Homo sapiens: one gene and its partners. The protein of the gene in region 4 interacts with the protein of the main gene of each other region in a biochemical or structural test. Each region holds a gene or a part of one and is shown on either strand. Other genes may lie near its edges.

What was found.
Region 1: the proteins of NFE2L2 (region 4) and MAFF form a complex in vitro, tested with the Homo sapiens proteins (one study listed by BioGRID).
Region 2: of the proteins of NFE2L2 (region 4) and PRKCA, one has a biochemical effect on the other in vitro, tested with the Homo sapiens proteins (one study listed by BioGRID).
Region 3: of the proteins of NFE2L2 (region 4) and DCAF11, one has a biochemical effect on the other in vitro, tested with the Homo sapiens proteins (one study listed by BioGRID).

The regions. Positions count from the first base shown.
Region 1 is NC_000022.11:38,211,974-38,217,015, forward strand, and holds the end of MAFF (transcription factor MafF), read left to right. Parts: intron 1-1,599; exon of another isoform or gene 1,600-1,710; coding exon of another isoform or gene 1,711-1,733; intron 1,734-1,849; coding exon of another isoform or gene 1,850-1,880; coding exon 1,881-1,916; intron 1,917-2,446; coding exon 2,447-2,905; 3' UTR 2,906-4,534; downstream 4,535-5,042. UniProt on the Homo sapiens protein: Since they lack a putative transactivation domain, the small Mafs behave as transcriptional repressors when they dimerize among themselves.
Region 2 is NC_000017.11:66,683,601-66,690,628, reverse strand, and holds part of PRKCA (protein kinase C alpha type), read right to left. Parts: intron 3,519-7,028; coding exon 3,362-3,518; intron 2,328-3,361; coding exon 2,193-2,327; intron 1,679-2,192; coding exon 1,582-1,678; intron 1-1,581. UniProt on the Homo sapiens protein: Calcium-activated, phospholipid- and diacylglycerol (DAG)-dependent serine/threonine-protein kinase that is involved in positive and negative regulation of cell proliferation, apoptosis, differentiation, migration and adhesion, tumorigenesis, cardiac hypertrophy, angiogenesis, platelet function and inflammation, by directly phosphorylating targets such as RAF1, BCL2, CSPG4, TNNT2/CTNT, or activating signaling cascade involving MAPK1/3 (ERK1/2) and RAP1GAP.
Region 3 is NC_000014.9:24,117,749-24,124,776, reverse strand, and holds part of DCAF11 (DDB1- and CUL4-associated factor 11), read right to left. Parts: intron 6,723-7,028; coding exon 6,622-6,722; intron 6,390-6,621; coding exon 6,243-6,389; intron 6,028-6,242; coding exon 5,973-6,027; intron 5,633-5,972; coding exon 5,564-5,632; intron 5,219-5,563; coding exon 5,161-5,218; intron 5,067-5,160; coding exon 4,881-5,066; intron 3,940-4,880; coding exon 3,786-3,939; intron 3,413-3,785; coding exon 3,260-3,412; intron 1,807-3,259; coding exon 1,700-1,806; intron 1,603-1,699; coding exon 1,468-1,602; 3' UTR 1-1,467. UniProt on the Homo sapiens protein: May function as a substrate receptor for CUL4-DDB1 E3 ubiquitin-protein ligase complex.
Region 4 is NC_000002.12:177,261,713-177,269,373, forward strand, and holds the start of NFE2L2 (nuclear factor erythroid 2-related factor 2), read right to left. Parts: upstream 3,016-7,661; 5' UTR 2,865-3,015; coding exon 2,820-2,864; intron 2,420-2,819; exon of another isoform or gene 1,691-2,419; intron 1-1,690.

The DNA of each region.
Region 1 (5,042 bases), on a different chromosome or scaffold from region 4:
CTTCCTTTGTTTTCTTTTTATTTATTTATTTTTTTTGAGATGGAGTCTCACTCTGTCACCCAGGCTCCCAGGCTGGAGTGCAGTGGCGCAATCTCGGCTCACTGTAACCTCCACCTCCCAGGTTTAAGCAATTCTCCTGCCTCAGCCTCTCAAATAGCTGGGACTACAGGCATGCACCACCACGCCTGGGCTAATTTTTGTGTTTTTGGTAGAGACAGGGTTTTGCCATGTTGGCCAGGCTGGTCTTGAACTCCTGAACTGAGGTGATCTGCCCGTCTCAGCCTCCTAAAGTGCTGGGATTACAGGCGTGAGCCACCGCGCCCAGCCTATCTTCCTTTATTTTCCTTGGCTTCTTATCACTGCCCCCTCCCCTTGGAGACAGATGAGAAAACTCAGGTTCTCATGGCGGAGAACCTGAGAGGATTGGCAAAGTAGATCCTATCAGCTAGAGACAGAGAGGACTGCTGCTTTAAAGGGGACTTTGGGAGATGGTCCCCTTCTCCAGCCCAGAGCAATGACCACTGACCCTCCACGAGTTTTATTCACCTTTTTCTCCCCATTACCAAGTACATGTTTGGCAAAGAGCTCAATAAATAGTTGTTGAAGGAGCATGTGGCTGTCAGGCCTGTGGGAGGGAGGATTAGGAGATGAGAGGCCCTCATTGGTCTAGGGATGGCTGCCCCATCTGCCTAGGGCATGCTGAGTTAGTATGGGGCAGCCCCCAGGAGGTTGGGAAAACTTTCCCAAAACAGAGGTCTAGATGAAGGAGGCCTGGGGAGAGAGGGGACTGGCTGATGTTGTATCTTACGGGGTGCTGGATGGGCTTTGTGTAAAGGCATTTACTGGTGCACATATGCTGTGTGTACTTTTCTGTATGTAGGTTATACTTTAAGAAAAGTTCTGAAAAATTGGCTGGGCACAGTGGCTCACACCTGTCCAGCACTTTGGGAGGCTGAGGCGGGTGGATCACCTGAGGTCAGTAGTTCAAAACCAGCCTGGCCAACATGGCGAAACCCTGTCTCTAAAAATAAAAATAAACTAAAAATACAAAAAATTAGCTGGGCGTGGTGACAGGCACCTGTAATCCCAGCTACTTGGGAGGCTGAGGCAGGAGAATCCCTTGAACACGGGAGGCGGAGGTTGCAGTGAGCCAAGATCGCGCCCCTGCACTCCAGCCTGGGTGACAGAGTGAGACTCTGTCTCAAAAAAAAAAAAAAAAAAAAAAAAAGAAAGAAAGAAAAAGAGAAAGAAAAGTTCTGAAAAATCAAATCAAAGGCACATGTCCAAGCCCCATGTGGAAGAATGGTCAGGAGAGGCACATCTATTCATTTGGTGCACACTTACTGAGCCATCTACTATATACCAGGCACTGATTTAGGCATATTGATGCCGTGGTGAGACAGGGAAGGCCTCTGCCTTCATTGGCTTCCGTTTTGGTGGAGGAGGAGTGGGAAGGAGAAACAAATCATAGATGAGGAACCAAGCATGAGAAATGCAGAAGAGGTGACTGTTACAAGGGTTAATAGGCGGGGTTATGTGATGTGACACAGAGGCGTTTAGCCAGAATGGTCAAAGAGGACCTCCTGAGGAGGTGACATTGGGCAAAGACCTAAATGATGAGGAGTCACCATGGGGCTAGAACAGTAAAGAGCACAGCCTGTGCACAGCTCCCGCGGCTGGAAGGAGCCATTCAAGGAGGCCTGTGGACCAATGTGGAGAGAGGAAGGTGGCAGGTATGAATCAGTTCTAAGATAGCAGAGGCCTTGAATGGCAAGGTAGTGAGTTTGGATTTTATTCTAAATGGGAAACCAAAAACAAAACAGTGACTTTGACCTCCTTTCTACCCTAGGTCTGCAGCCCAGAGGGCACCTTCTGCAAACATGTCTGTGGATCCCCTATCCAGCAAAGCTCTAAAGGTGAGGAGGCAGCCTCTGTCAACCCAGTGAAGCCCTCCCTCCCTGCCCATGCAGAGCCTCCTCATCCCAACTTCCCCTTCTTTCCTGGAATCCCCTGGGTGGCTCAGCAGGCACCAGGCCTTCATGATGCCAAAGGGAAGGGCCACAGCCATGGGCTGGGACCAGGAGGCCTGGGCTCTGGTCACAGGCTGCATGTCCCTGGGGTAGGTCACTTCCCTCTCCAGGCCTCCTTCCCCATCGGGTCAATGTCCCCTGGGGCATTCAAAGGTGCTTTCCGACCTGGGTTTCTCTGGCTGAGTCCAGGGCTTGGCGCTAGGTTAGAATTCAGGCTGAGCCCCGGGGTGGCCTCCTTTTGTGTCCCGATCCTAGTCTGGCCCGGTTTCCCCTTCCCGGATTCCTGCTCCCCTTCGGGGTTTTGGATCAAGTCCACCCACCACCTCGGCGGCTAAGGCGGTGAAAGAGGAACACCGCGGGTGGAGCGGGGGGGCCCGTCCCCAGTCCCCTGGACCTCAGTTTCCTCATGCCCGCAGATCAAGCGAGAGCTGAGCGAGAACACGCCGCACCTGTCGGACGAGGCGCTGATGGGGCTGTCGGTGCGCGAGCTGAACCGGCATCTGCGCGGGCTCTCCGCCGAGGAGGTGACACGGCTCAAGCAGCGGCGCCGCACACTCAAAAACCGTGGCTACGCCGCCAGCTGCCGCGTGAAGCGCGTGTGCCAGAAGGAGGAGCTGCAGAAGCAGAAGTCGGAGCTGGAGCGCGAGGTGGACAAGCTGGCGCGCGAGAACGCCGCCATGCGCCTGGAGCTCGACGCGCTGCGCGGCAAGTGCGAGGCGCTGCAGGGCTTCGCGCGCTCCGTGGCCGCCGCCCGCGGGCCCGCCACGCTCGTGGCGCCGGCCAGCGTCATCACCATCGTCAAGTCCACCCCGGGCTCGGGGTCTGGCCCCGCCCACGGCCCGGACCCCGCCCACGGCCCGGCCTCCTGCTCCTAGTGCCCGCCCCCGCCATGCCTCAGCCACGCCCCTCCGGCCTCAGCTCCCTCCCCAAAGTGCCTGAGCGCCGCCTCTGTGCCCAGGTCCCATTTCTCTGCAGCACTGGCCCCTTGGTGCACACACATTCCCTTCGTGGGCCCTGTCTTCCTCTTGCAGCCCCCCAAACTGGGACCGAATGACCCTGGGAAGGGGAACTTGGGTAGGTTGGGGATGGGGCAGAGGTCTGGATCTGGGATCGCCCTTGGCTGAAAGTTTAGCCTTTTTAGATTGAGAGATACAGAGCCGGCTTAGAGAACAGCTGTTGGGGGAGAAGAGGGCACCCCTCATCTTGGAAACTGCTCTTATTGTGCCAATATGCCCTCCAAACCCTCCCAGGATTCAAAGCTAGGTTTGGCTGTCTGTGACTTACGGGACCGTCCTGCTGAGAAATTGCACTGAAGAGATGCCCCCACCTCTGGTTGGGCCTGGGGGTGCCTGGCCTTCCGAAACTAAAAGAGTGGGTGGGAAGACTAGTGAAACCCAGTTCACGGATGGGGAAACAGGCCTGAGGTCACATTTCACTTAGTGGTTGTGTTGGGACCAAAACCTGGGTGTCCTCACTGCTGCCCTGAGTCCAGCCATGGTTTTCAGGGGGACAGTGGACAGGGACTCAGAAATGTGGTGGGAGGGCCTCCCTGGCTTGGGAGACCGCTCTCTGCAAGGGAGGGGGAGAGAAGCAGAGGGAGAGAGAAGGTGACACGGATGGAAGAGTGGGAAGGAGCTGGCCTGGCTCAGCCCTAGGCTGTCCCTGCAGCCAGGGTGTCCGGGGGCTGGCCAGTCAGAGAAAGGGGGCCATGGACTGCTGTGGCAAATAGGGAGACAAGGAGACAGACCCTGCAGTCCTACTACAGTCTGGAGTGGGGTCCTAAGAAGAAGGGTCCCACCTCAACCCCTGTCAGTGTCCACTGTGGGGTGGGGGCTGACCCCTGCCTTTGATTGTCATTCTCCTGGGAAGCCCAGTCTCAGTCCCTCCCCCAACACTGTCCACACTGCCCCTCCCCACTGTTTATTTATTGCACGGATCTAAGTTATTCTCCCCAGCCAGAGCCCGAGCTCCTGCTCCCTGGGAAAAGTGGCGTATGGCCCTGAGCTGGGCTTTATATTTTATATCTGCAAATAAATCACATTTTATCTTATATTTAGGGAAAGCCGGAGAGCAACAACAAAAAATGTTTAAGCCGGGCGCGGTGGCTCACATCTGTAATCCCAGCACTTTGGGAGTCCAAGGAGGGGGATCGCTTGAGTCCAGGAGTTTGAGACCAGCCTGGACAACATGGTGAAACCCCATCTCTACAAAAAATACAAAAATTAGCCATGCATGGTGGCTCATGCCTGTAGTCCCAGCTACTTGGGAGGCTGAGGCAGGAGGATCACTTAAGCCCAGAAGGCAGAGGTTGTAGTGAGCTGAGATCGCACCACTGCACTCCAGCCTGGGCAACATAGCAAAATCCTGTCTCAAAAAAAAAGTTAAAAAATATTGCCCGGCTCCTAGAATTTATTTATTTCCTGACTTACAGCAAGCGAGTTATCGTCTTCTGTATTTTGTAGACTTTCTAAATAAAGTCAAATTCTTTCTTTTTCCACAGAGAATAAATGTGTATCCTGGACTATGTTTTTTGGCGAGGGGTGTCTAAAATGGGGTTCTGCTTTCAACCCCTTAGGGCTTCTGGTGGCGGGGAGGGCTAGTGCACATCACCAGCTATTGCACAGGGTATGAGGTGGAGGGGAGATGGCGACAGAGACCAGTGATGCTGAAACTTCGATGCTTCCTCTTGGTTGCTTAGAGCACAGGAGCTCCTGGGAAGACAAAGCCATGGGCACAATGAAATTTAGGACTGGATTCTGGCGGAGCATGGTGGCTCACACCTGTAATCCCAGCACTTTGGGAGGCTGAAGCAAGAGGATCATCTGAGACTAGGAGTCCAAGAGCAACCCGGGCAACATAGTGACACCCCATCTCTACAAAAAATAAAAAATAATTAGCCACATGTGGTGGTACACATGCCTATTGTTCCAGCTACTGAAGAGGCTGAGGTGGGAGGATCACTTGAGGCCAGGAGTTTGAGACCAGGCTGGGCAACATAGCAAGACCCCCATC
Region 2 (7,028 bases), on a different chromosome or scaffold from region 4:
ACTCCTGACCTCAAGTGATCTGCCTGCCTCATCCTCCCAAAGTACTGGGATTACAGAAGTGAGCCACTGCACAGGGCCTGGTTCTAAGTTTTAACATTAGAACTCTGCCAACATTAAGATAAATCAGAATGTATCATATAAAAACCTGGATTTCTGGCTTCTCTGGAAGAAGGAAGATCCGGCAATAGAGGGCCTGGACTCGCCTGTGAGAAACATCGAGTGGGGCAGGGTAGCCGTAGCTGCCACCTGCAGACAGAGCTGAAGCTTACCAGCTCACCCCAGTCTCCACCACTCCCTCCTGCTTCAATCCCGAGGCCTGCCGTTCATTGCCATTTATTATCTGTGAATCATTTCACTCGTCTGTGCTCCCAAGGACATCTAACCAAAGAGCCCCTGCCATTTAGTATTTGCCACAAACATCAACTTTAACCAAACATCAGTTTAACAAAGTAATTTGAACAACTGCATGTTTTACATCCTTTGGGATTCATTCTCTCTGGATAAGACCTATATGTTTCTTTTGTGGGGGGCATGAAGGAGGTTTATTATCCCCCCAAGACCACTCTTCCCCACCCCCCAGATCTGTATGTTTCTTGGAGAACAACAGAAGAAGGAAAAGAGGAGCATCAGCATCCCATTAGTGTCAACATTTCAGTAGCAGTTCAGCATCTACACACATGTGTGCGTGTGCACGTGTACTGCTCTAGAGCGGGGAAATTCCAGGGAATTCTAACAAGTCTGAAGAAGAGAAAGATTCACGAAGGAATTAACCAGTTACACAGACTGAAAAGGCTACTCTAGGAGTCCCTCGAACAGCCAAAATGAAGGGTGATTAGAGAAACAGACAAATATTAGAAGTTGTGCCTTTAAAACATAAGGAAGGTGCTTACAGAAAAGAACCGTTTACTAAAAGCTGAGATGTCGGTAAATGAAGAGGAGAAGGGAGAGAGAGGAGAAGAAAAAGAGGAGTAAGGAGCAGAGGAGGAGAAGTAAAAAGACCAGTGAATCCGGGACAGAGGCAAACACAAATACCAAGAGGAAGAAGAGAAGGAGGTGGCCTTTGCTAAACATCTGGAGCATAAATAAAAAGGGATCACACACAAAGGCATATTTGTTTAAGCTGCTCTTTCAGAACAAAATTAGGAACCTTGTACTTTCTGTAGAAAAAAAAAGTCTCAGATGATAGCCTGATTACACACAAATGAGCTCCCAAGGAAAGGCCAAAATGACTTCCTCCTTTTCAGAAGAGCACAAGTCCTCCTTTGTAAGAACAATCCTGCCCTCAGAGCCTGCTTCTCTCCCCAGTGATGTGCAAACAGATCTCTTATGCAGAAATCAACCATGCTCTCAGTTCTGCGATATTTCCAGTTTCCATTTTCTAAGTGGTAAGAGTCATAAAAAGTCAACAGCTTGCAAAGGAAAGGGAACGAACAACATTCATGTTTTTAAATAAAGAAAAAGATCATTAACATTGAGATTACTTTTTTTTTGCTTTTCAAAAATGTGACCACAACATCTCGGCCGTTCCTGAAGTTGGGCTTTCTAAAGGAAAGGTGTTTCCGGGCATTTTGTTATCCTCACCTCGAATTTCTGCCTGAGTTCCATGTTTCCTTCCTCGTCCCCTTCCGGAATGGGTACGTTGTAGTACTCACCTTCTTCTTGGTTAAGCAACTTGTACCTTTCAAGGACGGGAGAAGAAGAGTTACCACCGCAAGTTTAACAAGCCTTTCCTGCAGCCTCTAGTCGAGCGGTTTTGTGAAACGCATCCTACGGAGAGGCTACAGCCAGATCAGTAGACATTTGACTTTTTTTACATTTTTATATTTTTGAGACAGGGTAGCTCTGTTGTGCAGGCTGGGGGACGGTGGCGGAATCAAAGCTCACTGCAGCCTCAGCCTCCTGGGCTCAAGTGATCCTCATGCCTCGGCCTCCTGGGTAGCTGGGACTACAGGGGTACACCACCACACCTGGCTAATTTTTGTATTTTCTGTAGAGGTGGGGTTTCTCCATGTTGCCCAGGCTGGTCTCAAACCTCAGAGCTCAAGCAATCCACCTGCCTCGGCCTCTTGAAGTGCTGGGATTACAAGCATGAGGCACCATGTCCAGCCTCAACTGACATTTGAGAGACTGAAACCTAACTGTCTAAATGGTCTGATGCTTTGAGACATACTCAACCTAAGCGGCTTCCATACCATCCACTGGCCGGCATCTTCATCAGCTCCGAAACTCCAAAGGAAAGGGATCCCATGAAGTCATTCCTTGTTGTTCGATCCCAGTCCCAGATTTCTACAGACAGTCGTCGGTCTTTGTCTGAAGGTTTCAATTTGCTACAAGACACACACACATGCAAACACTAGGTTATCTTGATCATGGTTTCTTGGGAGATACCACATGTATATGACTCGAGCCTGAGATAAAGAAATAGTATATTTGTCTTCCTGGTCCAGTAAAATACCAACCCCTTATGCTGGCAAGCAAAGCGCTACAGGAGTTAACAAACTATGACCCATGGGCCAAATCTATCCCACTGTCTATTTTTATAAATAAAGTTTTATTAGGACCCAGCCATGGCTATCTGTTTACATATTGCCTATGGCTCCTTTGGCACTAGAAAGTTATACCGGTGCAACAGAGGCTATATGACCCACAAGGCCTAAAATATATACTATCTGATCCTTTATAGAGCAGAGCTTGCTGGTCCCTCTAGAACAGACAGCTACCTTTCTGGTTGTCCACAGAAAAACTGCTTCCTGTATACTACTCTACAAAGGGGAACTCTTGCTTTCCCTCAGCTACACTCAGTCCTCCTGATTTATTTATTCCCTCCTTCCTTCTTCCCCTTCTCTACCTCTGAAATCCTGGCAACCCTCCCAGGCTGGCTTTAAATGTCACCTTTTCCAGGAAGTCTTCTCTCTTTGAAGGCAAGAATGATCTTCCCATTTCAGTGGCAATAACACTTTCTATGTTACTCACTCATTCTGTGGTCTAAAAATTATTTAAATTCTTGCCTTATGCCCTCCCCTAACTCCCAAAAGAACCTAAGTCCATCAAGAGGTGGACACACCTGACACATTTTTAGCTTAAATTCTATTTACCTTAATTCTATTTCCTTAAATAGAATTGTTTATCCAGATTAGATAATAATAATCTGAGGCCTGAATTATGCAACTCTTGATAAATCAAATTACTATCTATCGAACAGGTGCTAATAGCTACCTCCCTAATGGCAGCCTGAGGAGGTCTTAGGACTGAAGACATGTTTAAAGACGTTTATAATGAACCTACTTCATTACCTCAAATAATGAGGTGGGCAACTGCATGGTGTATAGGAATGAAATTTGATCAAGGAGAGACCACTTACAATGTAAAGGACTCATTCCACTGCGGATTTAGTGTGGAGCGGATGGTTTTGGTTTTTTGCTTGCTTTCATTCTTGGGATCAGGAATAAGTTTCAGCTTCACATAAGGATCTGAAAGCCCGTTTGGATCCATAGGGATTAGATTTTTTGCATCTCGTACTGTGAAGAGAGAAGGAAGAAAATATTACAAAAAGAGAACAGACCTATATTGCCCGCTGTCTTGTGTCAATACCAAGCTGAATAAAAGAGACGTCAGAATGGCGTTTAAGGAGACAGATGGTGGAAGCCAAAAGCCTCTAACACTCGACATGAGAAAAGCTACCCGCTGCCACCACCGGCAGAGATAATGGGCATCGTGTGGGCCCTTGTGGGTGGGTCTTGGGACTTAGCACCAGCCTGGACTGGCAGCATCAGCAACACTAAGATATCTATTAGAAATGCAGAAACCCAGGTCCCACCCCAAACCTGCCAAAGCAGAATCTGTAATTTAACAAGATTCCCAGGTGACCTTTGCAGCTCCCCAGGAGTAATGGTGCACCCTCCCTGCATGGAAGCGACCAGCCCAACCTGGTCTATGGTGCCACACACGCACCTGAGCTCCCAGAAGGTGTTATCCCTTTTTGTGGGTAAAGGCCAATGGCTTCCAACTCTGACTGTACATTGGAATCACATGGGGGTTGGGGAATGGGGGAGTTAAAAATTCTAATCCCCAGAATTAAACTAGAATCTCCAAGGAATGTGGCTCAAGTATTCGTTTTTAAAAGCTCCTTGGGTGATTCTACTGGGCAGCAGGGGCAAGCACCACTGCTGTATACAGTTGTAACTCAGAATTGCTGGTCCATGGACCGGCAGCATCTATATCACCTGGGAGCTCATTAGACATGCAGAACCTTGGGTCCCACCTCAGACTTAATAACTCAGAATCCTCACTTTAACAAGACCTCCAGGTGCTTCCAATGCAATCTTAGCTTGAGAAACCTGATATGGGAATCAAAAATAATTAGAAGGAAAGGCCATTTCATCCACAGAGGAAAACAGGCTCAAAGATTTAAGAGCTGGCAGAGGCTCACAACCATGAGAAGCTGTCTAAAGCCACTGCACGTCAACGTAAAAGATAATTATCTACTGCTATGATGAAGGGACAAAAGCCTGAGTCTCCTATCTCAAATGCCTTCCTATCTTCCCATGGCATCTTTCCCAGTAAGGCTGAATTATCAGATACCCAACTGGTCAGACACCATCAACACACATATAACTGGGACCAGGCTCCCTGATTCAGTGGTTCCCACAGTGTGGTCCCTGGACCGGCGGCACTGGCAACACCTCCTGAATCAGAACTCTGGGGTGAGGTCCAATGATCTGTGTTTACCAAGCCTCCAGGTGATTCTGATGTCCATAAAAGTTGCAGAACCACAGATCTAGGCAATTAGCATAGTTTATCAGCATAGTTTGATTATTAAATTAAGAATTACAGAAGAACTTGAGAAGAAGGCACTGGAGTTGTCAGTGGGCAGGGTTAGATGGGGAGGAGGCAGGGGGAGAACCCTAAAGATGTTGGGTCTTTGGACACAAATGAGGGAGGTACAGCCCTAAGATCGGAAGTCAGAGACAGGCATTGCCTTTACTAGTCTGTGGATCTACTGTGTTCTGCCTCCTGCCAGCCAACAGCCTTACATCCTCCTTACCTGGAAGCCTTACATAGGTAGGTAACAGATGGGACTATATTCAAATACAGAGGGGGAGGGGGCTAGCTCAGGTCTGCTAGCCACAGAGAAGCTGAACATAGTTTGTCATACCCCATTTGTGCCTTCCAAGTATTTCTTCTCCTAAGAAAATATCTAACCTCATTCATCTCAGGGAGCAGATAGCACACAAATAAAACACATAGGCATGGTCCCTGTGGCTCAGCAGGTGTACATGCAAACTCTGCCTCCTTCACCATGTAACCCTGAGCACTGGGAAGCTTAGTCTCTGAGCCTCTGTCTCTTCATCTAGAAAAATGAAGACGGACATAATTCCAGTGGTATAGAATTGTTGGGAGAATCAAATAAAATAATGTTTATAAAATACCTTACATGGTTGGGGGCTTGGAAAATGAAAAAATAAATCCATGGTGTGAGTGCTCACTATACCCCAGGCATGATGTTCCGGACTCCTTTCCACTCTTATCATGCTGGAATCTATAGGGTTGGAGGCCCCCAGGGGACTTGGTCACTGGAGAATTCACCAAGCTCATGTGAAAGGTTTTAATCCAATGCAGAAAGTCTAGCCCACTAAAACATCAACCCTGAGTATCACCAAAGATGAAAAATGTGAGCACAAAAATGGAGCTCTCCCATGAGGAATGGAAAGAGGCCAACGGTCTCTCTCTGATTAAACACCAGAATGAGAATCAGATGCTTTTTAAAAGGCAGAAAATGCCCTGGAATGTCTAATACTGGAGGCTGCAGAAGGTCACATCCTGGATAAGCCAAAGAAGACCCTTATTAAGGTCACCAAGAGGTCCTGGGTTGCCTCCTACCAGTTGCAGAATTATTGCGGGTGCTGGCTTTTATATCTTCAATTTATATTCCTGACAGACAACACACACAAAAAAAATCATTTAAGTAAGATCTCTTCGGAATGGTGATGAGTTAAAATCTTGATGGGATTTAAAGCTGTGAGTGTCCTACTGAGATACTACCATTTAAGTTGAAAATAAAAAGAGTTATCAATTCTAAATGTCATTGAAGCAAATAGTGGGTCCAAATTTCAATTTCTTATCACAGCAGAGAACAGCCTGTGTGAGTGTGACTCATGGCATGCCAGGACACCTGAATCAGGATTACGAGCAACTAACTTAGGGTCCCATCTGCTCAGAGTGTAGGATCTGGGGCAAGGCTGCCTGCATTTGAATTCTGGCTCTGCCACTCTGTGGTTGTGGACAAGCTATTTTATCTTCCTAAGTTTCCTCATCTGGAAAATTATATCTCCTTCAAGCAAGGATTATGTAGGCTCATCCATGTAAAGTGCTTAGAGCAGTGATAGGCACTCGGTGAGAGCACAATAGTGATGATCATAATTGCTCTTAATACAAGTTACTGGTGGAGAACAATCTTAGATGTGCAGAAACTGCACCAACAGCTTACGGAGTGGTAAGCAAATGCCGGGGAAAACAGTACAGTGTGGTAATGTTCTAACAGGGTTTCAACTGTATGGTTTCAAGAATGTCAGGCTAAGAGGCAATGCTAGGGGGCATTACTCATAGGAATAGTTGTAAGGAAGATGGAAGAGGGGAAGCTGGGGAAGCTAGGAAAGAGAAAATAAGAGGAAAATTGAAGTGGGGAAGCGGATGAGAACAAGGGCTAGAGACAGAAGAGAGAAACAAGGGAAAGATGTGATCAAGATGTGGAGTCAAATCCCAACACTTTGGGAGGCTGAGGCAGGTGGATCACATGATGTTGGGAGTTTGAGACCAGTCTGGCCAACATGGTGAAACCCCATTTCTACTAAAAATACAAAAAGAAGCCGGGCGTGCTGGTGGGCACCTGTAATCCCAGATACTCAGGAGACTGAGGCACGAGAATCGCTTGAACCCAGGAGGCGGAGGCTGCAGTGAGCTGAGATCATGCCACTGCACTCCAGCCTGGGTGACACAGTGAGACTCTATCCCCCCGACCCCCCCAAAAA
Region 3 (7,028 bases), on a different chromosome or scaffold from region 4:
AACCACCGTGCCCGGCCTACTTTTTGTATTTTTTGTAGAGATGGGGTTTTGCCATGTTGCCCAGGCTGGTCTCAAACTCCTGGGCTCAAGCGATCCATCAGCTTTGGCTTCCCAAAGTGCTAGGATTACAGGCATGAGCCACCACACCTAGCTTGTTTATTCTTTTAAAACTGCCTATTTTGCCATGAAATAGGTACCCTTGCTGTGAAAGCCTGTGAACACCCCTGGATGTGTGTACCTTCATTTAAAAACTGCCTTAGAGGGCATGAAATGTCATCAGGGAAGATCTATTCCGAGCTGGGTGTGAGCTCTAGCCCTCTCCCTGACCATCGGTTTGCTCTGGGGTATGAGGTTCTGAGTGTGAGGCGCCCACTGGGGCCTGGCGTCAGGGCCGACTTGCTTCTCTTAGGCTCTGCGTTCAGGGGCTACCTCTTCCAAAGACTACACAGCTGCAGGCCCAGCCTCAGAGCAGAGGTGATATGGGTATTACCAGGCTCTAATGGAAAGTGTGCTCTCTCGATATCTACTTGCAGGGAAGCTTCTGAAATTGGTAAGGGAGCACCTATTGCAAGGCTCAGTGAACAAATGGTTTTGGTATTTCCCTTTTTCATGGGGCACCAGAAGGGTATTTTCTCCTACACAGGATCGCATCTGAAGACTTTGCTGAACTGTGTTTTCCTGAAGTGAGGAGATGAAAGACCTCAGATAGGAAAAACAGAGAGTGAGAGAGAGAGACAGACACTGAGCCAGGTTCCCACACAGTTTATTGAGGGAGCCAAAGCCAGTGAGAGGACGAAGGAGTCCTACTTCAACCTACTTCCTTAAAGCTGTGTGCCTCCAGCATGAAGGGACCTTCCCAGAGGGCAGGGCCTGCCCTATAAGGGGCCACATGAAGCCTTGTGGAGACTCCTGCCTCTCATACCACAGCCTGTCCTACCCTAAAGACCCAGACATGACAGCAGACATAATCCCCACCCCAGGAGGGTGCTGAGGAAACACCCTTACCCATGCCCCTCCCCTAGAGACCTCAGGAAGAAAGGCCAGGACACCTGTCCTGTGATTGGCCAGTTGAATCCTCAACGTGAAGACCTGGCAGGCCTGGCTGACAGGTCTGTTCAGATGTGGCCTCAGGCATCTACTCTAGGATCCAACCCCTAACATTCAAACATGATTAAAAACACCCAGGACACTTCTCTTGCTGGCAGAGGCCACACCCCAGATAATGGCAGTCCTGCCAAACTCTGGCCAGAGATAGGGACCCAAGCTGACTGGGTGTGAGCACGTAAGGAGACCACTCTGCCCCATGGGGAGAATCTTCCAGGGCTCAGCTGAGGCTCAGAGCCCAGGCTTATGTTATTCCCCATCAAATGCCAGTGATTCCTCCAAACATTCCCCACAAGGGAGAAAGGGAGGAGGAGGCAGAGAGCTTATCAAGAGGTTCACCCTATATGGGGCTGGAGGTTGGATCTACTGGGGTGAGGAAAAGGGTGTAGAGGATTGGGGCACTGGGGCAGGGGCGCTGGCACATTCCTCAGATTCTGGCATGTCATCCTGGAAGTACTCAGCCTGGCGGTACTGCCACAGACGCAGGTTCCCGTCCCACTGCAGGGCAGAGGGTGGCAAGCAGTCAGGATGTGCTGCCCCCACCCAAGTCCAAGCCCCAGACATGTGCCAGCACCCTCAACCCTTGCAACCTCACCGAACTGCTGACAATCTTCTCTTCAAAGGGGTGCCAACTGACGTCACGCACACAGGCCTTGTGGTTGGTCAGCTTCTTCACAATGTGGCCACTTAGAAGGTCGTACACTGTCCAGGACAGGCAAGAGTGGAGAGGGACCACCACAAGACATCTAAACTATCCCTCACCTCCCCATGAGTAGCACCACTGACCTGCCTCTCAGGCAACTTCCCATGTTCCCATGGGAGCAAAGCCCACACCAGAAGACTGTGTTATTTCTGCTTCTATCCCTGTTCCTTTCCATACCTTGGGTTGAGGGTATGGTTTAGTGGTGTGGGTATGTCTGGCCCTTAGCTAAATTTCATAGGGGCTACAGTTAAGGAAATGCACTGGCTTTGAAGATTTTAGTAAGATATGGAAGGCACCACAAAAGTGAACAATGAGCTGTCTGGGGGTGTGTGCACCTGCTGCACCTTATCTGGACAGGGTGCATCTTTCTTTTGTCATGGGACTGTGAGTGTCTCTCTAGGGACAGCACTGCCTTAGGCTCCTTGTATCTGCAGCTGTGCTTCTGGTTTTTTTTTTCTTTTTCTTTTTTTTTTTTTTTTGAGATGGAGTCTCGCTCTTGTTGCCCAGGCTAGAGTGCCGTGGCGCGATCTTGGCTCACTGCAACCTCTGCCTCCCGGGTTCAAGCGATTCTCCTGCCTCAGCCTCCTGGGCTCAAGCGATTCTCCTGCCTCAGCCTCCCAAGTAGCTTGTGATTACCAGCGCCTGCCACCATGCCTGGCTAATTTTTGTGTTTTTAATAGAGATGGGGCTTCACCATGTTGGCCAGGCTGGTCTCAAACCCCTGACATCAGGTGATCTGCCCGCCTCGGCCTCCCACGGTGCTGGGATTACAGGCATGAGCCACCGTGCCCGACCTTTTTTTTTTTTTTTTTGAGACAGTTTCTCACTCTGTCACCCAGGCTGAAGTGCGGTGGCACAATCATGGCTCACTGCAGTCTCGGGCTCAGGTGATTCTCCCACCCTAGCCTCCCAAGTAGCTGGGACTACAGGCCTGTGCCACCATGTCCAGCCATTTTTTGTAGAGACAAGGTTTCTCCATGTTGCCCTGGCTGGTCTCAAACTCCTGGGCTCAAGTGATCTGCCCTCATTGGCCTCCCAAAGCCCTGGGGTTACAGGCATGAGCCACTGCAGCCAGCTTATTTCTTTCTATGCTTTTCTGCTTTAGCGACTGCATGTCCCTTAACTACTTGCTACCATCTTCCTGTGTCATTTTGTCTCTGTTCCCTCCTACCTTTCATCTGCAACCTCTTTCTTGACTGGCTGAAAAACAGAACCAACTATATTTTTGGCAATCTATTATATTTACTGTCTAGAATTCTATGTTCCTTTTCTTAATTTAAAACACTGAAAAATAGAATGGTTTCTATTTCTCTGTTTAAGCCTCCAAGCTAAGTTTGATTTTACCTGTAGCTGTCACTGGGCTTTTTAAGGTGGTCACTAGTCGTTATAGGTGGAATGGCAAGGAGTCATTCCTGCCCTTCCTGAGGCCCCCTGTTCTGACACAATCCTTACCAACCACTTTGCCAGTGGAGCAGCCACTGTAGATGAACTGCTGGCCAGTGCTATGAATGGGGGAGAACCGGCAGCGGATGAGGGTGTGCAGCACTCCGTGGCCCCGGTAGGTCATCAAGGAGCTGTCCCCTGGGAGCTTCAGCTTCCGCCAGGCTGGGTAGGGATGCAGAGTAAACCCTAGGTTAGGAAATCTGCTTTGGGATTGTTTCGTACCACCAGTCCTGAGCAAGGTTCGATGCCCAGAGACAAATGCCTTTCCAATCTTCAAGTGGTGGCTCTTTCTCCACCTAATAGTCAGTGGACAGTCTCCAATATGGCCCTGCCGGTTAATCATTACACTCACATACTTTTATATTGGTTGATTCTGAGTGACCCCCACCCAGGCCCCAATCCTAGGAACCTCTGGCCATTCCATCCATGATTTAGCAAATAAAGAGTTAATGCCTGGCAAAGAGGGCTGAGGGGGAGGTCCTCCAGGGCTCCCAGGCTACAGACAAATCCACTGTGCCTGTACTTCCAGTCTCACCTTTTTTGGGCACTTGCTGCCACCGATAGTCCCAGTTTTGCTGTGTGGCAGCCTGGCGTGAAGCTTCCATGCCTTCCCGGCTGGAAAAGCGTCGGATATCCCAGAGTTTGATGGTCTGGTCTTTAGAGTTGGAGATCAGATACCGGGCATCACCCTATGAATCCAAAGGTGGATAGTGAAGCATCAGAGCTTGCAAATGTCGGCGCCTGTCAGTCTAGTTCCCGTTCTCTAGTTGAGCAGAAGAACTCTGGCCTCTGGCTTTACTTGCCTCTCTTCATCCAGGTGAACTCATTTCCAGCGTTCTGCCTCAGATCCTACCACCTGGCTAGGTTTTCCTTTCCTTGCCCAGGCTACTGGCCGGCTTTCCTATTCTAGCCTTAATCAGATTGTCTTCCATTTTTCTTTTTTTAATTTTTAATTAACTAATTTTTTTTTGAGATGGAGTCTTGCTCTGTCACCCAGGCTGGAGTGTAGTGGGGTGATCTCGGCTCACTGCAAGCTCCGCCTCCCGGGTTCACGCCATTCTCCTGCCTCAGCCTCTTGAGTAGATGGGACTACAGGCGACTGCCACCACACCCAGCTAATTTTTTTGTATGTTTAGTAGAGACGGGGTTTCACCATGTTAGCCAGGATGGTCTCGATCTCCTGACCTCGTGATCTGCCCGCCTCGGCCTCCCAAAGTGCTGGGATTACAGGCATGAGCCACGGCATCTGGCCTTAGTTTTTTTTTTTTGTTTTTTTTTTTAAATAAATAGAGATGAGGTCTCGCTAGGTTTCACAGGCTGGTCTGGAACGCCTGAGCTCAAGTGATCCTCCCACCTCAGCCTCCCAAAGTGCTAGGATTACAGGTGTGAGCCGCTGTACCTGACCGGTCTTCCATTTTTCTTGTACGGAAAGCCCTGCCCTGCTCCTTGAGGACTGGTGAGTACAGATGGAATTCATGTTCCCTGGCTTGAGCCCCTTCCCTAAACTCCAACTCTTACAAACCTTGGTTAATAAGGAGCTTGTCAAATTCCCACACCAGTCCGCTTTCATGCCCTCCTGGGCAACTAGAACCTTAGCGGCCTGGCTGTACAGTCCTGACTTCTGGCCCACCTTGCTGTCAATGAAGGTGATGCCATCCTGGTGTCCAGCCAGTGCACCCACAGGCTTGGGGTCATCCTCCCGCATGGTGCGTCGATCCCACACTTTGCAGATGGCATCATCTCCCCCAGAGAACAGGATTTGGGAGCTTATATCAGCAAAGGCCACTGCATTCACATCATCCTCATGGGACTCAATCTAGGCGAAAAGGAGGCCAGGATATAAGACCTCTTTCTAGGTCTTATAAAAAGCCAAAAACCAGGAGGCAGAGGCTCTATCTCAGGAGCCATACCTGAAGGGTGCGCCGGTTCTGTTCTCGGTCAAAGACATACAGGCAGCCATCATTGGCCCTGAAAGGGAAGGGATAAAGGAGGGTCCTGGAGCCATGATCGAGAGGACCAACGTGGTATATGCTCTAGAGAGTTCCACTGAGAAATCCTGCTCTGGGTCAAGCCCTTTGCTCTTTTTATACAGGAAGTGGGGGAAGAGTTAGCTGTGTTTCAAGGAGGCTTGACACCTCCAATCTCGTGCTGGGGAAATGGAGAGCAAGGGGTGAAGCAACTTGTAAATCCTGACCTTGGGAGAAGGTCTGGTTGTTCTCTGCAGCTGCCAGTGCCATCTGTGTAACAGCAGAACTCATCTCTGGCAGAACCCCCATCTTGTTATTGAGGGAAACATACCCCACAAGCACTTACCCTCCTAGTACTTCTCGTCCATCTGAGGAGACAGCAATGGAGAAGACAGCAAAGCGACGCTCATCTGGCCTAAAAGCAAGAAGGAGCTGGGTTAAGTGGACTTCCTTCAGCTTTTGTTAATCTACATAAAATCTGACAACGGTTGTAAGGCACATCCCCAGGGGAAAAAAGAAGTCTGGCTAACATGCACCATAATGCAGATGCTCAGTGAGAACCCAGAAATCATCCTGCAACCATCTATTTTACCCAGTCCTCTGGCTGACAAGATGGTGCTTCCCTCCCAGGAATGCACACAGACCCACCAGTATACTTTTTCCCCTAAACAGAACTTCCAACTCAAGAGGTTTGCTCCCAAAGAGCTTCCCTTGAGAAGTTTCTGATGAGTCTGACCAGAAAGGGAAGCCAGTACCTGAGATCCAGGGCAGTGTGTGTATCTCCCTCACCATAGATATTGCAGATATGAACTAAGAGAAGCAAGAAAAACAAGAATCTTTCAGGGATGGGGGAAGAAGAGTGGAAGTGAAGCTAGGGAAGAGATCAAACAGGGGACAAGGGTACTGGAGCACTTTGGGAGTGATTTTCCCAGGACAAAGTGAGGGATCCTGGCTCAGAGGGGACAGGCACATGGAAACCTCAGGTCCCAGGCTGGAGAGTCAGTGGAAGCCTGGTGCATACTCACTGTAATCAGACCAGCTAGAGTAGAGGAAGTGGTTCCCATCAGGGGTGAAGGCCACATCCAAGACGCTCCAGCCTACGTCGCGGGCCTTGATGCTCTTGAATTTACGGAAACGGCCATATCGGCAGTCATAGAGTCGGATTGTCTGGTCTGTGTAAGTAAAGATCAGGCAGAATTATGGGACAGTTTCCTTGTAACTTTTCTAGATTAGACATCTCCCACTCAGTGTACCTGTGGAGTCTTCCCTTTATCATGGGAAACATGGTCTGGCTAAGCATCCTTAAGCCAGGTCTGAGCTCCCCGTCTGTGGCTTTCTAGCCTCAGTCAGGGGGAATGTCCCATGTTCCAGGAAAAGATAGTTTATAGGACCAGGGTCTGGTACCTTGGCAAGCAGACATGAATATTTGACCATCTTTGCTGTAGATGCCACAGAAAGCCTTCTGAGAGTAGCTATCAGTGAAGCCCAGATCATTGGGCAAGAAGCTAGGGAAGGAGAGAGAAAGTGAGGGTGAGGGGTGCTCAGGATAAGGAGTGTCCCAATCAGCAGAATCCTAACAGAGCTGGAATATCAGAACAGTCATTCTTCCCTTTTGGCTGTGAGTGCAATCCCGTCTTTCAACCATTCCACCATCCTCTAAATTTCTACAATTTTCTACACTTTTCTACTTTGTTTACTCTCAAAGTTTCAACCCCATTTAACCTAACCTTTAATATCTCTGAGGCTCCTTTAACACCTACCCCTTCAAAGTTTAGGAGATAAGACCTATCTGGCCCTTAGAGTCTCTTCAC
Region 4 (7,661 bases):
TATGTCTGGCACCCAGGGACGTGCCCAGTAACTTATCTATTATTATCTTAGTGCCAAATTCTTCCTGCATACTGAAAAGTTAACCCAGGCTTGAGGAACAGTTAAGGAGGAAATATTGACACAAAACCCCCTTTAAATGTCTTCAGTCAGGACAGAGGAAATTCCCAGAAAAAAAAATGTACTTGTTGGGTTCCTTTTTTTCATGCAGCTTTGTTAAACATGATTTATCCTCAATAAAAACAAATATTAAGAAAAATGATGCATTTGGCTTTCAACTTTTCCTGGTAATCCTAAAGACAGAGTCAGTTTTCCCCCCAACATTGCTTATAAGAACCCAGGGCAAGAAAGAAAGATTTCAAAATGGCCCAAGTTATTTTTAATGCGTAAAAGACTGATGTGAGTTATGCATTTATCCTCCTACATGCTGCTTCCACAACCTCTCAAGAGATTTTTCACATATCTAAAAAGTCAAGTTGTTCTTTGCTTAACATTCATTCAGGAGATGAGAGGCCTGTCCTATTTTTCTTTTGTTTGACTTAAAAATAATCTCATCGGTCTATTTCAATATCAACTTCATCCCTCATCTAGGAAAGTGCTTTATCTCTCCAAGACACCCTTGAAAAGAGTAATGGATGGTTCCTTCCACCTAATGGAGATACTGAATCTAAGGCTCTCCTTACTGCCCTGTTTATCAACACATCCTCTGCACAGAAGGTGAAAAACTATATCCTACTACCACTTCACACCTGGAGAGTTTTTTTTGACAAAAGGTCAAGAAAATGTTTGACTCTGTTCAAATCTTTATGGATGACAACAATCTAATATGAATCATAAACAAAATCAATTCTAAATTTTCTTGTTCTTTTTCTGTTTTCAAATATGCAAATCGATGTCTGATTACAAAGGTAGAAAAGCAGTTATTTTTATCAAACGTAATTGGAAAATACACACTTAATGCGGTACATATGTTTCACGCATTTTTGTATAAGGAATGTTATATTACACAGCAAAGAAAGAAAAATTCAAAAATAATAGAGGGCTGTAGACAATTCCGGAAATCAGAAAAACTAAAGTTCATTTTTATCATATATCCTTCAGTCAAACAAGCATTCCTATAGATAACTCTTGAACAGCAGCTATTAAATAAATCGGAAGGTACAATTTAATTCTTCACTAGTTGGAACCAGAAGAATACAATCCCAATGAAGACTGGGGAAAAGTTCAAGACAAACAACTTTAAAGGGGGAAAAAAGCACAATTAATACATTGTCCATAACTTAAAACTTTACAATAGATCTTTGGAATTAACCGAAAACTTTACATTTAACAGCATAAACGTATTTACTGTACATCAAGTACACATTTCCTTGAATTCCAATTTTTTTCCTAAAATTCATTTACAAAAGAAGTTAGAAATATAAATATCTACTTTTAAAGTTTCTACAAAGGATGAGCAGAAACTTCTTTTCACTTTTATAACAATTCACAGAAATTAGCAAGTGTTTTGAAACGCAAGCGTTCCACTCTCTGCCCCTGCAGAAGAGGGGGAACATGTTAAGAAATTGAGGCAAATTCTCAACTGAAAAGGAAACATATATAAAGTACTCAGGGGAGAAATAATAGCTGAAAGCAAAAAATTACTAACAGACTAAAAGCAACAGAAATTCTAATCTACACTCGCAACTCTTACCCTTGACAGCACAGAAGAGAATATCCCGTCTTACACATTTTGGAATTGCAATTCTGAAACGCTAAATCCAAAGACAAAGCCGCTCTGGGGAAAATAGCAATTGCGCAACAGATCAACAGCTCCAACCTGTCCCTTGGCCCTGGCGCGGCGAGGTTTGCACGCTATAAAGCAGGAAAGGGCCAACCGAGGGCTGCTGTGACGGCCAACCGAGCGCTGTCACGGAAGCCAAGGCCACGCGCGCGGTGAGCGCCACCAGGGGGCACCGCGTCCGAACTAGAAGCCCCGGGTGCCGCCGACTCCGGCCTCAGAGTCCACTGCCCTCGCCCGCACTTTCCCGCGGCGTTACGAGGGGCCAACTCCGGGTGCCCGAGCCCGAACCCCTCCCCGGCCGAGAAAGTGCGCGGGGCCCGGCTCAGCCGCCACACGTCGGGGCTTCTGAGCCCGCTGGGCACTTAAGGCGCTCCTCCCTCGTCCCGGGGCTGGGCTTTCAAGAGAGCTCAAGGCTGCCAGAGAGTGATCCGAGAGATGGATGACTTCGCAAAGCCGCGCCCACAGACGGCCCAGCGGGGTGAGCGCGTCGCAGCCCGCACTCAAGGAGGTCTTGGGGCGCGGCGAAGGGGCTCCGGGTCCCAGCCCGAAGGCGACCTCAGTTCCCCCGAGAGCGGCCCCGTGACTAGGCACATTTTTGCCGGCACCGAGGCGGGGGAGCCGCGCAGCCCCGGAAGGGCCGGGCCGCGCCGGCTCAGACGGCCAGCGTCCGCCCCCTCTTGCCCCGCCGCCCACCGGGCCGCTCAAACTTAGGGGCTCCGGAGTCCCAGCTCTCGGGCCCGGGGACGCGGCTGGATTCTCCCCCAAGGCCCACGCGAGCGGGCTCAGTCCCCAGACCTTCCCGCAACTTCCCACCCGTTCGCCCTCGGGCTCGTGGTCGGTCGGATCACCCGGCCGCGTCCCCGCTGCCCCTCCCCGCCCTGCCCCGGCGCAAGCGCGGCGGCTCTACCCAGCGCCGCGGTCCTGGCTCTGGCCAGACGTGGGGGAAGCCGGTTGCGGCTGTCCCTCCCGGGCCGCGGTTCCCTAGCTCCCCCGCCCCCGTCCCGGCACCACCGCAGGGCCCAGAGGGCCGAGGCAGCACCTGCTGGGACGGGAGTCCCGGCGGCGGCAGCTCCAAGTCCATCATGATGAGCTGTGGACCGTGTGTTGGGGCTCCCCGACGGCGGCCCTGTTCCGGCTGCCGAGGCGCGGCGCGGACAGGGCGGCTCTGGTGGCGGCGGCGGCGGCGGTGGCGGCTGCGTCGGCGGCTCCTCCGGGCTCCCCGGCACTCGGTAATCGGCTACACGCCGGCGGGCCCCTGCCCCGCTCCGCCTCCCGCCCCACAAGGGCGGGGCAAGAGTCCGGGCCCTTCCTTCCCCCGCCGGCCGCGCGGGCTGAGCTTCCGAAAATCCCCCACCCGCGCCGGGGCTGACGCAAGAAGCTCGCGGTCCGGGGGCGGGAAGGGACTGCCAGCTGGGGTCCCAGCAGGCGGGGGACCTAGAGGAGGTCTCCGTTAGCTCCCCGGTGCCGGCGTTCAGTTTGCCCTCCCCCGCAAATAAGGGCAGCGCTCTCGCCCGCGAGATAAAGAGTTGTTTGCGAAGGTCGCTGGAGTTCGGACGCTTTGAAACAGTTTAAACAGTTGGAACAAACACACCCGGAGCCCCGGAAAGGCGTTGGTGTAGGAGCTGCGCCTCCCTGATTTGGAGTTGCAGAACCTTGCCCTGCTTTTATCTCACTTTACCGCCCGAGAATGGCGCCAGCCGGGGTGGGGGGGGCTAAAGATTTGGACCCAGACCGTGCCACTGCCAACTGCCCTCCCGCCCTTGCTCCCTTCCCGGGCTGGGGCCAGTGGGCCCTGCCTAGGGGAGATGTGGACAGCTCCGGCAGCTCGTGTTCGCAGTCACCCTGAACGCCCTCCTCTGAACTCCCACGTGTCTCCATTCTCCTAAGCTCAGGTCGTCAAAGGCAAACGGAGAAGCCCCTTTAGGTCGGAGAGTGGTCAGTATTGCCCACCCAGAGCTGGGAGAAAAACGGGAACCCCAAGAGAACCTCTTCCCACCAAAGCGCAGCCACCACGCCACAGATGGCGCCCTTCAACAGTGTGTAATACCACAACATGCTGTAATCGTTTACTCTTTACAAATTTCTTTTTCACGTACTCACAAAATAGTACAAATTAAAAAAAGTTACAAAAACGTTTGTATAGTATTGGCTCATTTTATAAAAACGTGCCTAGAAAAAAATTGAAGGTTACCAATATATTAAATGCTGTGGAATCAACGATTTTTATGTTTCTCCTTGTTACTTCCAAGTATGCTTTAAATCTGCAGTGCGTATGTTTTATGTCTTACATTAAAAACAATTATTTAAAAATTAATCATTGCCCAGAGAAGACTTCAAGTATTTGAAACGAGGAATATTGTGAACTCTTATAAGGGTTCAAAGAGGATAGATAAATGGTTTAGTTTTGTTTTTTTCTTCCTCTTCTGCATTTACAATCTTTCTAACTCTATACAAGACTGGTTTTCAGTTTCTAGCTTCCTGGAATTATTCAAAACCAGGTGAAGTAGATAATACTGGCAGTGGTTTTGCTATTTCATTCAAAAACCACACACACACCCCTGACTATAGCAATCAACGCCCAAAAAGCTGCAGAGCTTACTTTCTCTAGGTTGCATAATTTGACACTCCCAGGATTTATGTGTAAATTTGTATATTCAGATATTCCTTGAGATAAGTGAAGCCTAAATTAATTACTTGTAATTGAAGCAAGCTTCTTTAACTCCTATTAATTCCTTTCAGCTGTTATGTGAAAACCCTGCAACATGATCTGCACAATGAAAACAAGTTAGGAGAAAACTGTTTGCAAAGGACCTCACATGAAAGATGCAGAGACATAATAATAAAATAACATTTCTGAGTCCAAGAAAAAGACAAGAGTAAATTGTTAACAATTCAAGTTACTTATTAAAATTACGACATCAGAGAAGGTAGACAATGAGCCTAGTAGGTAGGAGATACCAGAGTCATATGACATGGTTACTGCTCTAAAGGAGTTTATAAAGTATTTGGTATTTCCTTGTTAAGCCACAAAATTTCCATTGAGTTTAGACTGAATGAAATAACCTTCACTTTTCCAATGCTGCAATTTGCTGAGAGTGTGTTATTTCAGGCATCTGCAGAGTACATATTTTCAAAGGGAGGGGAGCAATATGATAAGAGTTTGAACTTGTTTAAGAAAAACAAACACTAAGGAAAAGCTGTTTGGCATTTGGTTTAGCCAAATAAAGGGAACCCCATTCTCAAGACCACCCACGTCAAGGAGGTGCCCAATCTTGGCAGACTCTGGAATGTGATTGTCTTCATATGAGAGCCTGAGCCCTTGCTTTGCCCTCCAAACCTGCCTATTGTGTTAGGAGGGCACAGATAATGCATGTTGAGAAGCTCTGGAGGAGCAAGAAAGAACAAGAAAGAGGAGGTGCTGGTTTTTCTCTCCTGTCTTGCTGCCATGGGATCCTTTTTTGCTGCCAGGCTCTCCTCGCTACTATTTGGGAAAAATACCCTCCAATTGGTTTTATGTTCTATTGACTCTTGTACCTTTTCATTGATTCCTGAATCATTTGCTGTCTTTGGGAAGACGGCCTTCCCTACATGCTTGAGATGTGTCAATTGTGATACCTTGCTCCAGATTGCTCATAAAAAATAAGCATCATTGGCCAGGTGCTCTGGCTAACGCCTATAATCCCAGCACTTTGGGAGGCCGAGGCTGGCGGATCACGAGGTCAAGAGATCAAAACCATCCTGGCCAACGTGGTGAAACCCTGTCTCTACTAAAAAATACAAAAATTAGCTGGTTGTGGTGGCATGCGCCTGTAGTCCCAGCTACTCAGGGAGGCTGAGGCAGGAGAATTGCTTGAACCCAGGAGGCGGAGGTTGCAGTGAGCCGAGATCACGCCACTGCACTCCAGCCTGGCGACAGAGTGAGACTCTGTCTAAAAAAAAAGTATCATCAAGTAAGTCTTCTGGGTATAAGAAGTCTGGATAATGGTGATGCATTGACCCCTTAGTTCCACCTCCTTTGTGCTCCAATCTGCCAAGTTGCAAGGTGCAAGAAAGTACCGATTGTTTCAAAATCCTCCATCACTTTGAGGCTTCTTCCTCTCTCTGTCACTTCCTCTCAATTGTTCTCCATGTTTGAGCCAGAAAATATTCATAATCTTTTAGAATTGTAGTTGAAATTCTACTTTGTCCAGTGTAAAGTATAGAAAGCTTCCAAAGATGGCACCCAGTAAACCACCTCTCCTGATATTGAGGCATTTGTCTAGTCCCCTCATATTGAAACAAGCATGGCTGGCCCTGCAACTTGCTTTAAGGTATGGAAAGAGGCCAGAAGTGACATTATGCCAGGTTTTAACCTAAGCTTGAAAAAGCCCTGACAGCTTTTAATTTTATACTCTTGGAAGTCAGCCATCATCCTAAGAGGTCTGACTACCTTGATGGAAAGAGAGGCCATGGGAAAAGTCATGGAAGATGAAACTCTAAATGGAGAGAGAGAGACTATGTGAACCAACACACCAGACATGTGAATGAAGAAACCATCTTGGACCTTCGAGCCCACCTATTCAAGCCCCCAAAGAACTCCAGCTCCAGCTGCTATATGACTGCAGTCACATACAAGAGACTGTAAGCAAGACCGGCAGAAGACTCCCTGGCTAAGCTAAGTCAACACCAAGAACTGTGAGAAATTATAATAAATCACTTTCAGCTATTAAATTTGGGGGTGGTTTGTTTCATAGCAATTGATAACCAAAACAGCATACTGTATGTATGGTGACTATCAAAGGCAGGGTTTCCCCTGGCTGCTCTTTGTTTGTTAACCAACATTGGGAGCACAAACAGGGAGATGATACTTGGTGATTTAATAAAACTCAGACTCTCAGAAGAAAATGACTTCCCTGGGAATGAGGAAGCTGTCTTTCCCATAACATATCTTTGTTGCTACATACAAAGTAAAAAACCTCATCACACCATGCATAAGTTTCATTTTATTAGACGATGGAGAGATAGTCTCCTTATCAAAATACACTTCACGAACACAGACATTTTATCAATGAAGTAGATGGAGGGATAAATGCATACAGAGGTTCTGACCGTGATATGACCTCATTTGTGCCAGTTATGTAAGATACTCGCTGAATATCTGCTTAGGGAGTTTGAACTTGAGCAACCTGCCCAGTGGATAAACTAAACTCCAGTATAGGCCAGGCGCGGTGGCTCACACCTATAATCCCAGGGAGGCCAAGGTGGGCGGATCACCTGAGGTCGGGAGTTTGAGATCAGCCTGACCAACATGGAGAAACCCTGTCTCTACTAAAAATACAAAATTAGCTTGGCATGGTGGTGCATGCCTGTAATGCTAGCTACTCAGGAGGCTGAGGCAGGAGAATTGCTTGAATCCGGGAGGCGGAGGTTGCAGTGAGCCGAGATCGCGCCATTGTACTCCAGCCTGGGCAACAAGAGCGAAACTCCATCTCGAAAAATAAATAAGTAAATAAAATAACAAACTCCAGTAAAGCAGTGTTCAAAATATTTGGTGTATTAATTTCAAAACACACCCGCATCCTTGGTTCCCTGGGGTGTACACCTCACTGTGCAAACTACTGGTACAATGAGCTGTACATCTCCAAAGCCAGTTTTAACTTGTGTAGTTTCCTGCTCATAAAGAAAAAGTATCCTGCAGCAACAGCAATGCAGTGAGTAAAGAGAAAAATGTTTAAAAGAGTCCTTTGAATTTTATGTGTTGATACCTATATAAATATATATGCACAGAAAAAAAAGACAGAATGCATATACTCCAAAATGTTAACCGTAATTATTTTGACTAGATGGAGACTGATGACTTTTTTTTCTCATTTTTCCATGTTTACATTGTTCTAAATAAATA